Linked DNA regions of Homo sapiens. The protein of the gene in region 2 interacts with the protein of the main gene of each other region in a biochemical or structural test. Each region holds a gene or a part of one and is shown on either strand. Other genes may lie near its edges. The genes, in order: DLG5, NCBP2L and GRID2IP.

Evidence for each region.
Region 1: the proteins of NCBP2L (region 2) and DLG5 interact in a test that uses a peptide from one of them, tested with the Homo sapiens proteins (one large-scale study listed by IntAct).
Region 3: the proteins of NCBP2L (region 2) and GRID2IP interact in a test that uses a peptide from one of them, tested with the Homo sapiens proteins (one large-scale study listed by IntAct).

What each region holds. Positions count from the first base shown.
Region 1 is NC_000010.11:77,924,612-77,928,360, forward strand, and holds the start of DLG5 (disks large homolog 5), read right to left. Parts: upstream 2,145-3,749; 5' UTR 1,910-2,144; coding exon 1,606-1,909; intron 1-1,605. UniProt on the Homo sapiens protein: Acts as a regulator of the Hippo signaling pathway.
Region 2 is NC_000023.11:107,784,146-107,787,794, reverse strand, and holds part of NCBP2L (nuclear cap-binding protein subunit 2-like), read right to left. Parts: intron 1-3,649.
Region 3 is NC_000007.14:6,549,297-6,553,045, reverse strand, and holds the start of GRID2IP (delphilin), read left to right. Parts: upstream 1-1,584; 5' UTR 1,585-1,609; coding exon 1,610-2,038; intron 2,039-3,749.

The DNA.
Region 1 (3,749 bases), on a different chromosome or scaffold from region 2:
TTGAGATCCCCTCTGTCCTTATCCTCATGGCCACATCTGACAGTCCCTTCCTAGCATCTCCCAAAGCACTATCCCAGGAAAGGACTAGGTTTGCCCAGTAACTCTGACATGACCACAACTGGGGGGAAAGAATGCAGGTTTGAGGGACAGAGATGCAAGTCAGAAGCTCAAAGTGGAGACGGGAGGGCCACCAATGAAATGACCTGCTGTGTGGCCAGCAATTTAGTCTCTCTGTCAGTTTCCTGCAGCTACAAAAATTGAGGTTAAGATGGCCAACGTAAGAGAGCTGTTACCAGGAATGCCTTATAAAATCATTCCCTTAATAAGTGGGGCTTTTAACAGCCAAATAAATGGGTCCCATCAGCCTTTGACCTTCAGGTTGCTAAGGGCAGTTTCTCAGCCCTCTCGGTTCACTTGTTTTTCTTTTATACATATATCCTTATTTATTTTTACTGTACCTATCGATTCACTGTTAAAACAGGGACAAGACCTAGAAAGATGGCACTTTGTTTCCTGGCTCTGAACAAGTTAAATCAAACAATAGGTTATAATTCAAAATTCCTGGTGCCCAATACTTTCTGAGCATTTTAACCACTCCAAGCCAGAGTTTTCTCTCTGGCAAAGAATAACAGAAAGCTCACATAGTGGCAACGACAACTGAACGTGATAAAGCAGAGCGCCTGCCACAACAGTAGATGCCCAATAAATGCTAGTTCTCCTCCTCCCTCAGTGCCATGTCTTCTTCCTCCAGCTGCCTTGTCTAAAAAGGCTGGCTTCCACACTCCACGGCCAGGCCAGGACAAGCCTACCACTTGTCAGAAACTCCCGCCAGTATCCGTTCCTGCACCCAGACACACACTTACAAATCAGTCATCCCCAAGACCAAAGACACAGGGGTTCCAAAAGGCACCCTCAAGGGAACCAGTCACCAGCCTTCCTCGTTAAGCAGCTCTGTGCTCTCAGGGAGAGAACTTAGCCCCAGCAGCCACTACTAGGATTTTCCCATGGTGCAATGCAACTTCCCCAACTTTTCCGGGCCCAGTTTCCAAAGAAACCCAGGCAGGCGTTGTGCACAATCAGCCACCAGTCTGGGAGAGACTGGGCTCTGAGCAGAGAAAAAGGAGCTGGGACAGCCAGAAAATGAAAAAGCAGTTGTGGCCCCGGCACAGGATGGCAGCGACCAAAACTTAAGAGTAGGGGTCCTGGCCCAAGTCCCATTCTTCTGGACGGTACCCTTGGTTAAAGGCTAGCACAGGGTGCCAAAGCTAGCGGACGGTGAGGAGCCTCAGAAAAGGGACTGATGGACATCCTCCGAGGTACCCCCTACCCGCTACTGGACCTGGTGGCCCCCGGGGACCCTGTCGTCGAGGCACCTGAGAGTGAAGGCCTTCAGCGGGGGGCATTGTTCACAGCGAACGGCGGGACTGGGGGAGGCGGCGGGACTTCGGGATCCGCGCACCGCCGCCTCCCCAACTGGGCCAGAGGAGCGAGTCCACCGAGGCCATCGCCAGGTGGAGCGGCGGCCCCGGCGAGGTACCCTCGGCCAGCAGGAGGGAGAAGCGGAGGGCGCGTCCCAGAGGCGGGGGCCAAGGGTCTGCCACTCACCCGCGCCTTCGGCGGGCTGCGGCGGCCCGACGACGCCGTTCAGGTAGAGAATGGGCAGCAGGTGAGGCTGCGTCTTCTCCAGCGCCGCCCGCAGGTCCTGGAAGTGGTCCCGCTCCTTGGCCAAGAGCAGCTTGAGCAGCAGCTCCGCCTTGGCGCCTCCCGCCTCCTCGTCCAGCTGCCGCCGCTCGCCGGGACTGAGCGCTCCCGCGGCCTCGAGCAGCCCGAGCACGGCTTCCACCTCCGTCATGGCCTGGGCCAGGCTCTGCTGACACTGGGCGAGCAGCTCCCGGCGCTGGGGCTCCATGGTGGCGGGCCGCGCCGCCCCGCCCCGCCGGACGCCTCCCGGGCCCCCCGAGGCCGGCGGGCGGGCAGGCGAGCACCTCGGCAGCAGCCCTAGGGCGCCGGGAGCCGTGAGGCGGCGGGAGCCATGGGCCGGGGCCTGGGCGGGCTGGGGGCCCGGGGCGGCGGGCGGCGCTCAGCAGCGGCCGCCTCCCGGGCTCCGGAGCGCAGCCATGTTGGCTGCCGCGGCGGCGGGACTGGAAGAGGAGGAGGAGGAGACGGAGGAGGAGAAGGAGGAGGCGGAGGTGGGGACGGCGGCCGGGGCGCGCCCCGAGGCCGGGCTCCAGCCGGGCATGCTCCCCCTCCCCCTCAGCCTCCGCGCGCGCCGCCCGCCCCGCGAGAAAACTCGCCCCGAAAGCCGGGCCGCGCGCCGCCCCCAGAGCAAGACTACAACTCCCGGGAGAAAGTCGCCTGGGCCGTGTTTCCCAGGCTCCCGACAGCTCCGGCCCGGCTCGGAGGCCGCCTCGGCCCCCGTGCACCCCGGCCCGGCTCACCGGGGCCCCGCGGCCGCCACCCGCTCCCCCGTGGCCACAGCCCCGCCGCCGCCGGCCCGTCCCTCCTCTCTCCCCTCCCCAGGCCGTCCCTCCGGGAGGCGGCAGCAGGGGAGGAGGGGACGGGCGGAGGGGAGGGGTCCCCGGCCCGCCCGCTAGGCGGGGACGCGGCGCCGGCTGGTTCCCGGTCCCCCGAGGCCCAGGCGCAGCCGGGGGTGGGGGACACGGAGTCAGGCCTGGCACGCGGCCAGCCCACAAGCTGCTGGAGACCCCCTCATACAAATCTTGCCCCCAGTCCAGAGGGTCCTAATCTGAGAACTCCAAAATACAGCCTGGAGACAAATGGTGGGGAGGGTTTCCCCTAAATTTGGACATCTCCAGATTAAGACCTCCGCCGAATCCGTGAGGCTTTCCCTCTCCAAGGAGCTCCTAAGAGAATTTCCCAGTAAAATCGCCTCAACTGCGGTAAATAGGCTGTTCCCCGCGCCAGCATTTGAGAAGAGCTGGTCCCCAGAGTGTAAAGGAGTTAGGATGTTGGCAGGAGGAAGGATGTGTCGCCGGATGAGGAAAAGAAAGGTGGGTGTCTGCGGTGCAGTCCTTGGTCTTTCTGGCAAGTGAGGCGCTCTCCCCCTAAATGTCTCAGAGGGAGACAAATCAGCGGACTACCTTGCTTCCTTTGATGACTTGGAAAGGATCTGCAGTCCCCCTTAAAGCCCAAGAATGTCTTCTCTTCCACGACAGCCGTTTGTGGACACATACTGCTTACCTCCCTGACTGCAGGACAAGGTCCTTCAAAGCTGGAACTCTGACTGCGCTCAGTGATCCCGCAGTGCTCCTCTGTAGAGTGGGAACCCAGGTCCATTTCAAATATCTACGTTGGAATGAGTGGATCTCGCTGGGGGTGAGAGGCACTTTGTCTACCCACACTGCCAGTCCCAGCCACATGCCTCCTCCCTTCCCTCAAAAAGCAGTGTCTTCTTAGTCTGCTTCTTCAAGGGGAGAAGTCGTTTTTATTTATGGAAACGAACTCACTATATGGTAGAAAGAACAAGAGTATCAGAATTTGCACTTTGGACTTGGACTCCCCTCTAAGCAGCTGCACAAGGTGGAACAAACCAATAATCCTTGCTGATCTGTTTTGTCCTTAGGAAAAATGGTGGAGGGAGAATATTAGATCAGGGGTTCTTAGCCTTGGCTTCATGAATAAGCTCAAGGATGTCAATGAAGCTTTTGACATGATCTCAACTTTTTTGTGAACATTTATATATTTTTCTGGAATGGGGTCCATAGAGTTACAAGTTCTTTAAGACCTCC
Region 2 (3,649 bases):
AGCTCTAAGAAAGGAAATTAGAAAGCGCTGGGACAGTAGTGTTACTACATGCCTTACCTTTATAAGACTGTTCCTAATGGGTGAGAGAGCTGAGAGCCATTGTTGAGGACTGGAACCCTGTGGCCAAATATCTACTTTGTGCCAAGAGAAATTCATGTCTGATTGAGACTGCCTAGTGCTCAGAGTGACAGAAGATGTTCATATGTATTTAACACCTGTATTTAAATGAGTAGTTAAACATAAACATGTCATGGAGGTGAGAGATGAGAAATTACTTAATGGGTACAATCTACACTGTTTGGGTGACGGTTACATTAAAAGCCCAGACTTCACCACTCTGCAATATATCCATGTACCAAAACTGCACTCGAACCCCTTAAATTTGTACAAATAAATAAATAAACAAACATAAGCTGAAACAGACTGGCAGAACTAAAGCGGAGACAATGGCCTGAGACAGGCTACAGGAGAAAAGAGGATAATAAGTGACTGTTTAGTGTAGAAGCTGATCTGGATTAAATTAGGAAGCAGGTGTTAATGGATGCTTGAATTTTTTTGTTTATCATTTGCACTATATGGCCTTACTGTTCAAAGTGTTGTCCGTGGGCCAGCAGGAGCAGCACACCTGGGAGCTTTTTAGAAATGCAGGATCTCAGGCCCCTCCCTAGATCTGCTGAATAATAATCTTCATTTTAACGAGTTTCAGGTGATTTGAGTGCACAGTACAGTTTGAGAAGCACTGACGTATGTGGTTTCTTAGTTGAACTTTTGCCTAACAAAATTCTCTGTCCCTTCCTCCTTCCTTCTCTCCCTTGTACCACCTCTCCTAGTTTCCCAATCTTAGTTTCCTTGTGATCTGGCACATAACTCTAATCATGGCTGATAGCCCCAAAAGTAGTGTTCCCAATATATCCAGATAAAGAAAAGAAAAGAAAAGAGTGGTCAGATATATATTGTAAAGCACAGGTTTGGGCAGTAGGAAACCATTGACTTGGCCTCTAATTGTGCTGTCTGTATAACTTTTGTCAAGTTCCTTGACCCTTCTGAGCCTCAGTCTGTAAAATAAGGGTCATTATAGTATTTACCTCATAGTGTTGTTGTGAGAATGAAATGAAATGAGGGGAAGGTATGTAAACTGCCTAACACAGCGCCTGACACACAGTAAGTGCTCAGTATGTGGTAGTCATTATTATTGAAAGCCATCAGTTCTGAAGTAAACTTAGAACTATGTTATGATTCCAGACTTTCAAAGTCCCCATGAGTCTTTCTGGAGAGCCTCCGGAAAGCCCTGTGTACCTCATCCAGTTCAGCTTTCTTGACTCCAGTACCAGCAGTCAAGCAAAAGTATTTCTTATTCCCTTGGATTGTCTTCTTGTTTTTGCTGAATTACCAAGATTTCCTACTTTGTCATTGCAAATGGCCCACATTTTTAGTACATTAAAGCTAAAAACATCTTTTGTGGGCTGGTCTGGAAATGTAGTTCAATTTATAACAATTTTTTTCTCCTATGGAAAAATGCATGTCACCTTCCAAACAATTGACTTGAGAGTGAACTTTGAGAGCTCAGCCTGTCTGCAGCTTGGAGGCTCCCTGTATGTCAATATATGGAGTGGTCACAAAGGCTAGGTAAACCAAGTCCAGAATTCCAGAGGTGGCTGAAAGACAATTGACAATGCTACAAGGAGTGGAAAGTAGGGCAAATGGATCAATCTGCGTGCACAGTATCAAGATTTAGAAAGCTAATACAGGAAGGGAGATATACCTCTGGAAGGATATTAAAAAATAGCCACAATGACAACACAAACCATTTTTTTTTTTACTATATTAGGTCAGGGGCCCCTAATCGGTAGCTTGGGATCTACAAACAATATCAAGGCCTTGCAAGCTAACTCTCCAACATGATCGCCCTTCTCCTGCCCTGCTCTCTGCAGTTTACCTGGATTCTCAGCTCAGAGAGGAAGACAGTAAGCAGCATCTCCCCAATCCTCTTCACTCCCACACCCTGGTAGCCAGCCCCCAGATTCAGTAAACTTCCCTCTACCTTTAATTTCCGTCTTCCCAGGGAGATCAAGGCATCAGGAATATACAACACAGTTTTTCCTTACAAAAAGGATGAGGACTCCTGTATTGGGTAAAATAAGATGACTGGTGAAAACAGGGCCCCCAGGATGGAGAGGGCTGGAAAGACAGTAAGAAAGGACCATGAAAAAGCAAAGGACTTTTGTGCCTTCTCCCTGAAGTTGTTAGCAAGAAAACCAATTGTATCTGGGGGAACTCTGGGTTAACATGGCAGCAAGATAACACAGTCTGATACCCACCATCTAGGAATGCCCATTAAAATATCCATGAAGCTTTGCAACAAAAAACTAAAACTTGCACTAGCTACGGAAAATAGGGGAAAAGGGACTGTTAATTGCTAATGGAGAAGGAATTTCTGCTAGCTGTTGTAGGGAGATGGGGTTGGACTGAGGAACATATTTATAATCTACATACACTCTACCCTCCTATCCAGAACAGCAAAAGTGCCCAACAAAGTTGGGGAAAGATTTTGATTCACTTCTACCAACTGTCCTTAGATTGGAAATACAGAGGCTCATCAGAAAACCAATGTCATCCCTTTACTATAAAGAAAATATTTTCAGAGGCAACAACAGCTCTGTTCCACTTCTTCTACCATCAATTCCTCTATTTTATTTTTTTCTCTTTCTTTCTTTCTCCTTCCTTCCTTCCTTTCTTTCTTTCCTTCTTTCTTTCTTTCCTTCCTTCCTTCCTTCCTTCCTTCTTTCTTTCCTTCCTTCTTTCTTTTGTTTGTTTTTGAGACAAGGTCTCATTCTGTGGCCCAGGCTGGAGTGCAGTGGCACAATCACAGCTCACTACAGCCTCAACCTCCCAGGCTCAAGCAATCTTCCCACCTCAGCCTCCTGAGTAGCTGAAACCACAGGTGCATGCCACCACACCTGGCTATTTTTTTTTTTTTTTTTTTTTTTGTGGAGATGGGGTTTTGCCATGTTGCCCAGGCTGGTCTTGAACTCCTGAGCTTAAGTGATCCACCCGCCTCAGCTTCCCAAAGTGTTGGAATTACAGGCGTGAGCCACCGCATCTGCCCAGCTCCTCTATTTCCTATATGCTTTGTGGAGACCACAACTTGAGAACACCATGTGGCTGGTGATGGTGGTAGCGGTGGTTGGGGCCAGAGATTGTTATGGTTGGGGCCAGAGATTGTTATCGGGAAAAGTTCTGAACATAAGCATGCTTGCAGACATTATATCTGAAAAAATGTAATGTGTAACATGTAATTTCATATTACATATATAAATATGTAATATGTAATTTCATGTAATATGAAATAATGTAACATGTAACAAATTGCAGAGTTGAATGACCCAAAAGATCAGAGATGGAAGATTCCATCTATCTCAGTCCAGCCAAACCTAAAAATAATGATAGCAGCAACAATAACACTATCAACTGCCACCAGTTGCTGGGCAATTATTATATGCCAGACACTATATTAAGTACTTAACATGTCATGCATTATCTTACATACTCCTCATAGTAAACATAACTTGCCATTCAAGTTTGTTTGAAAAGGTCAGGTAACAATAATGACATCTACCACATATTGAGTTGTGACTATGTGGTAGGTACC
Region 3 (3,749 bases), on a different chromosome or scaffold from region 2:
ACCGCACCCGGCCTCTGAGGAGGTTTCTAAAGTCTCCCCCAGGCTGGGTGCAGTGGCTCACATGTGTAATCCCAGCACTTTGGGAGGCTGAAGAAGGAGGATCGCTTGAGCCCAGAAGTTTGAGACCTGTCTGGGCAACATAGTGAGACCCCATTTCTATAAAAATTTTTTTTTAATTAGCTGGGCATGGTAGTATGCGCCTGTGATCCCAGCTACTCAGGAGGCTGAGGCAGGAGGATGACTTCAGCTTGGAAGGTCAAGGCTGCAGTGAGATATGATGGTGTTCCTGCATTCCAGACTGGGTGACAGAGTGAGACTTTGCCTCTAAAAAATAAAGCCCAAGAGGCTGGGCACGGTGGCTCACGCCTGTAATCACAGCACTTTGGGAGGCCAAGGCAGGTGGATCACCTGAGGTCAGGAGTTGGAGACCAGCCTGGCCAATATGGTGAAACCCTGTCTCTACTAAAAATACAAAAAGTAGCCGCGCATGGTGGTGGACACCTGTAATCCCAGCTATTCGGGAGGCTGAGGCAGGAGAATCGCTTGAACCCAGGAGTCAGAGGTTGCAGTGAGCCGAGATCACACCACTGCACTCCAGCCTGGGTGACAGAACAAGACTCTGTCTCAAAAATAAAATAAAATAAAATAAATGCCCAAAGATATGAATGGTCTCTGAGGGACCATTCTGCTCCAACATTCTGGACTTCCGTAAGTTTGTGATTCATGCCAGATCCCGAAAGGGAATTTTGGTAGATGGAGAGGGGTAAGAAGAGGGATTAAAGTGTAGGGAGTGAGGAGGGCCCATGGAAGCCAAGTGTACATGTAAGACAGTAAAACAGACCTGTGGAAGCAGGAGGGGCCCATGGAAAAGGATGTGGCCGCATTGGTTAAAAATCCAAGGCACTCAAAAGAAGACTTTAAGGAAGGGCCATTTTTCTTTTACACCCCCTCCCCAATTTTGTTTTTAGTAAAAACAAACAAACAAACAAACAAAAAACAAAAAAACAAGCCAGGCATGATGGTTCATGCCTGTAATCCTAGCACTTTGAGAGGCCAAGCAGGCAGATCACCTGAGGCCAGGAGTTCAAGACCAGCCTGGGTAACATAGTGAAACCCTGTCTCTACTAAAAATACAACAATTAGGCAAGCCAGGCACGGTGGCTCACGCCTGTAATCCCAGCATTTTGGGAGGCCAAGGCAGGCAGATCACCTAAGGTCAGGAGTTCGAGACCAGCCTGACCAACATGGAGAAACCCCGTCTCTACTAAAAATACAAAATTAGCCAGGCTTGGTGGCACATGCCTGTAATCCCAGCTTCTCAGGAGGCTGAGGCAGGAGAATCATTTGAACCCAGTAAGCGGAGGTTGCGGTGAGCTGAGATCACGCCATTGCACTCCAGCCTGGGCAACAAGAGCGAAACTCTGTCTTAAAAAAACAAAAACAAAACAAAACAAAAAAACATAGATGGAAGGGAATTGAGACAAAGACGGAGTCAGAGGGAGGAGGCAGAGATAAGTAGAGGCCTTCAGTGGCCCTGGGCCTTTGAGTGGCTTTGGAGCCATGGACAGAGCAGCAAGGAAATCCCTGTTCTGTCTCCAGTTCTAGGTGCATGGCCACCACTGCCACGCCGGCCACGAACCAGGGCTGGCCAGAGGACTTTGGCTTCCGGCTAGGTGGCTCTGGCCCCTGCTTCGTCCTGGAGGTGGCCAAGGGGAGCAGCGCGCATGCCGGAGGACTGCGGCCAGGAGACCAGATCCTGGAGGTGGAGGGGCTGGCGGTGGGCGGTCTGAGCCGCGAGCGCCTCGTGCGCCTGGCACGGCGCTGCCCACGTGTGCCGCCCAGTCTGGGCGTGCTCCCGGCTCCCGACGGTGGCCCCGGCCCAGGATCCGGCCCCGCGGCCCCGACCACAGTCTTGCGGGCCCCGCGGTGCGGCCGCGGCCTAGCTCTGGGCCGTGAGCTGCTTCGCCTGGCCGGCCGCAAGCGCCCGGACGCGGTGCACCGAGAGCGCAGGCGCAAGGCCCAAGAGTTCAGCCGCAAGGTAAGGCGCGGGGGTGGGAGGTGGGGGCGGGAAGGAGGGGGCTCATAATGTGGGCAGGGAGTGGGCCGGGCGCCGCTCTCCCAGGGCCAGAGGTAAGGAAACTTCTGGGGTCAGATTTAACAGAAATATGGGAATGCTCAACTTCAAAACCTTGCAAACAATTTTGCATTTTTTTTTTTTGAGACAGAGTCTCGCTCTGTCACCCAAGCTGGAGTGCAGTGGCCAGGTCTTGGCTCAGTACAACCTCTGCCTCCCAAGTTCAAGTGATTCTCCTGCCTCAGTCTTCCAGTAATTGAGATTACAGGCGTTTGCCACCACACCCAGCTAATTTTTTTTTTTTTTTTTTTTTTGGTATTTTTAGTAGAGACGGGGTTTCACCATGTTGGTCAGTCTGGTCTCAAACTCCTGACCTCAAGTGATCTGCCCACCTCTGCCTCCCAAAGTGCTGGGATTACAGGCATGAGCCACTGCGCCCGGCCTAATTTTGCAATTTTTATTCACTTGTGTTTCTTTTTTATTAAGGTACTATAGGTGTAAAGTGCATTAAGTGTGCAGCTCAATAAATTTTCCATATACATGCACCCTTGAATAACCACCCTCTTGATCAATATATAAAATAATAGGATATAGATAAAAATATAATGTAGACTATAGAATAATTGACACCAGAATGTTCCCACGTGCCCCTTTCTCTGTCTATCCTCCCCATTAGAACTTAACTGCAGGCCAGGTGCTAGATGTAATCCTAGCATTTTAGGAGACCAAGGTGGGAGGATCACTTGAGACCCTGAGTTCAAGGCCAGCCTGGGCAACGTAATGAGACACCATCTCTACAAAAAAAATCAAAAACTAGCTTGGCATGGTGGTGCATGCCTTATAGTCCCAGATACTCAGGAGACTGAGGCAGGAAGATCGCTTCAGCCTGGGAGTTTGAGGCTGCAGTGAGCCATGACTGCACCACTGCATTCCAGCCTGGGTAACGGAGTGAGACCGCATCTCTAAAATAAAAAGATAAAATAAAAAGAGCCACAGATATCGCTTCTTGGCCCTTCATCTAAGATCAAGTGTAAAAGAGCCAGTGGGGTGAGGTGGCTCACGCCTGTAATCCCAGCACTTTGGGAGGCTGAGGAGGGCTGATGACTTGAACTCAGGAGTTTGAGACCAGCCTGGGCAATGTGGTGAAATCCCATCACTATCAAAAATATAAAAAAAAAAAAAACCAGCCAGGTGTGGTGGCGCGCGCCTGTGGTGCCAGATACTCAAGGGTGTTGAGGTGGGAGGATTACTTGAGCTTGGGAGACGGAGGTTGCAGTGAGCTGAGATCATGCTACTGCACTGCAGCCTGAGTGACAGAGTGAGACTCCATTCCCCTCCCCGCCATTCCCCACCTCCAAAAAAATGTAAAAGAATTCCGCCTGTTCTAAGCCCCCACAAAACCAGGATTAGACCTGCCCTTGCACAGCGGCCTGGCTGGCTTGTTGGCTGCAGGAGGCCCTAGTTTGGCTTCACCAATCTGCCAAAGGCATTTCCTCTTGACTTTGGCACAAACCAGGCTGTGATAGACTGCAGGTGGAATATTAGCGTGGTCCTGAAGATTAAGAATGAGGAGCCTGGAATGGATCAGACCTCTAGCCACAAGAAGAACCCAAGGCCTGAGTCACCTGCAGGAAGTAGGGTGTGGCCACAAGCCAAGATGGAGGCACCATTTAGA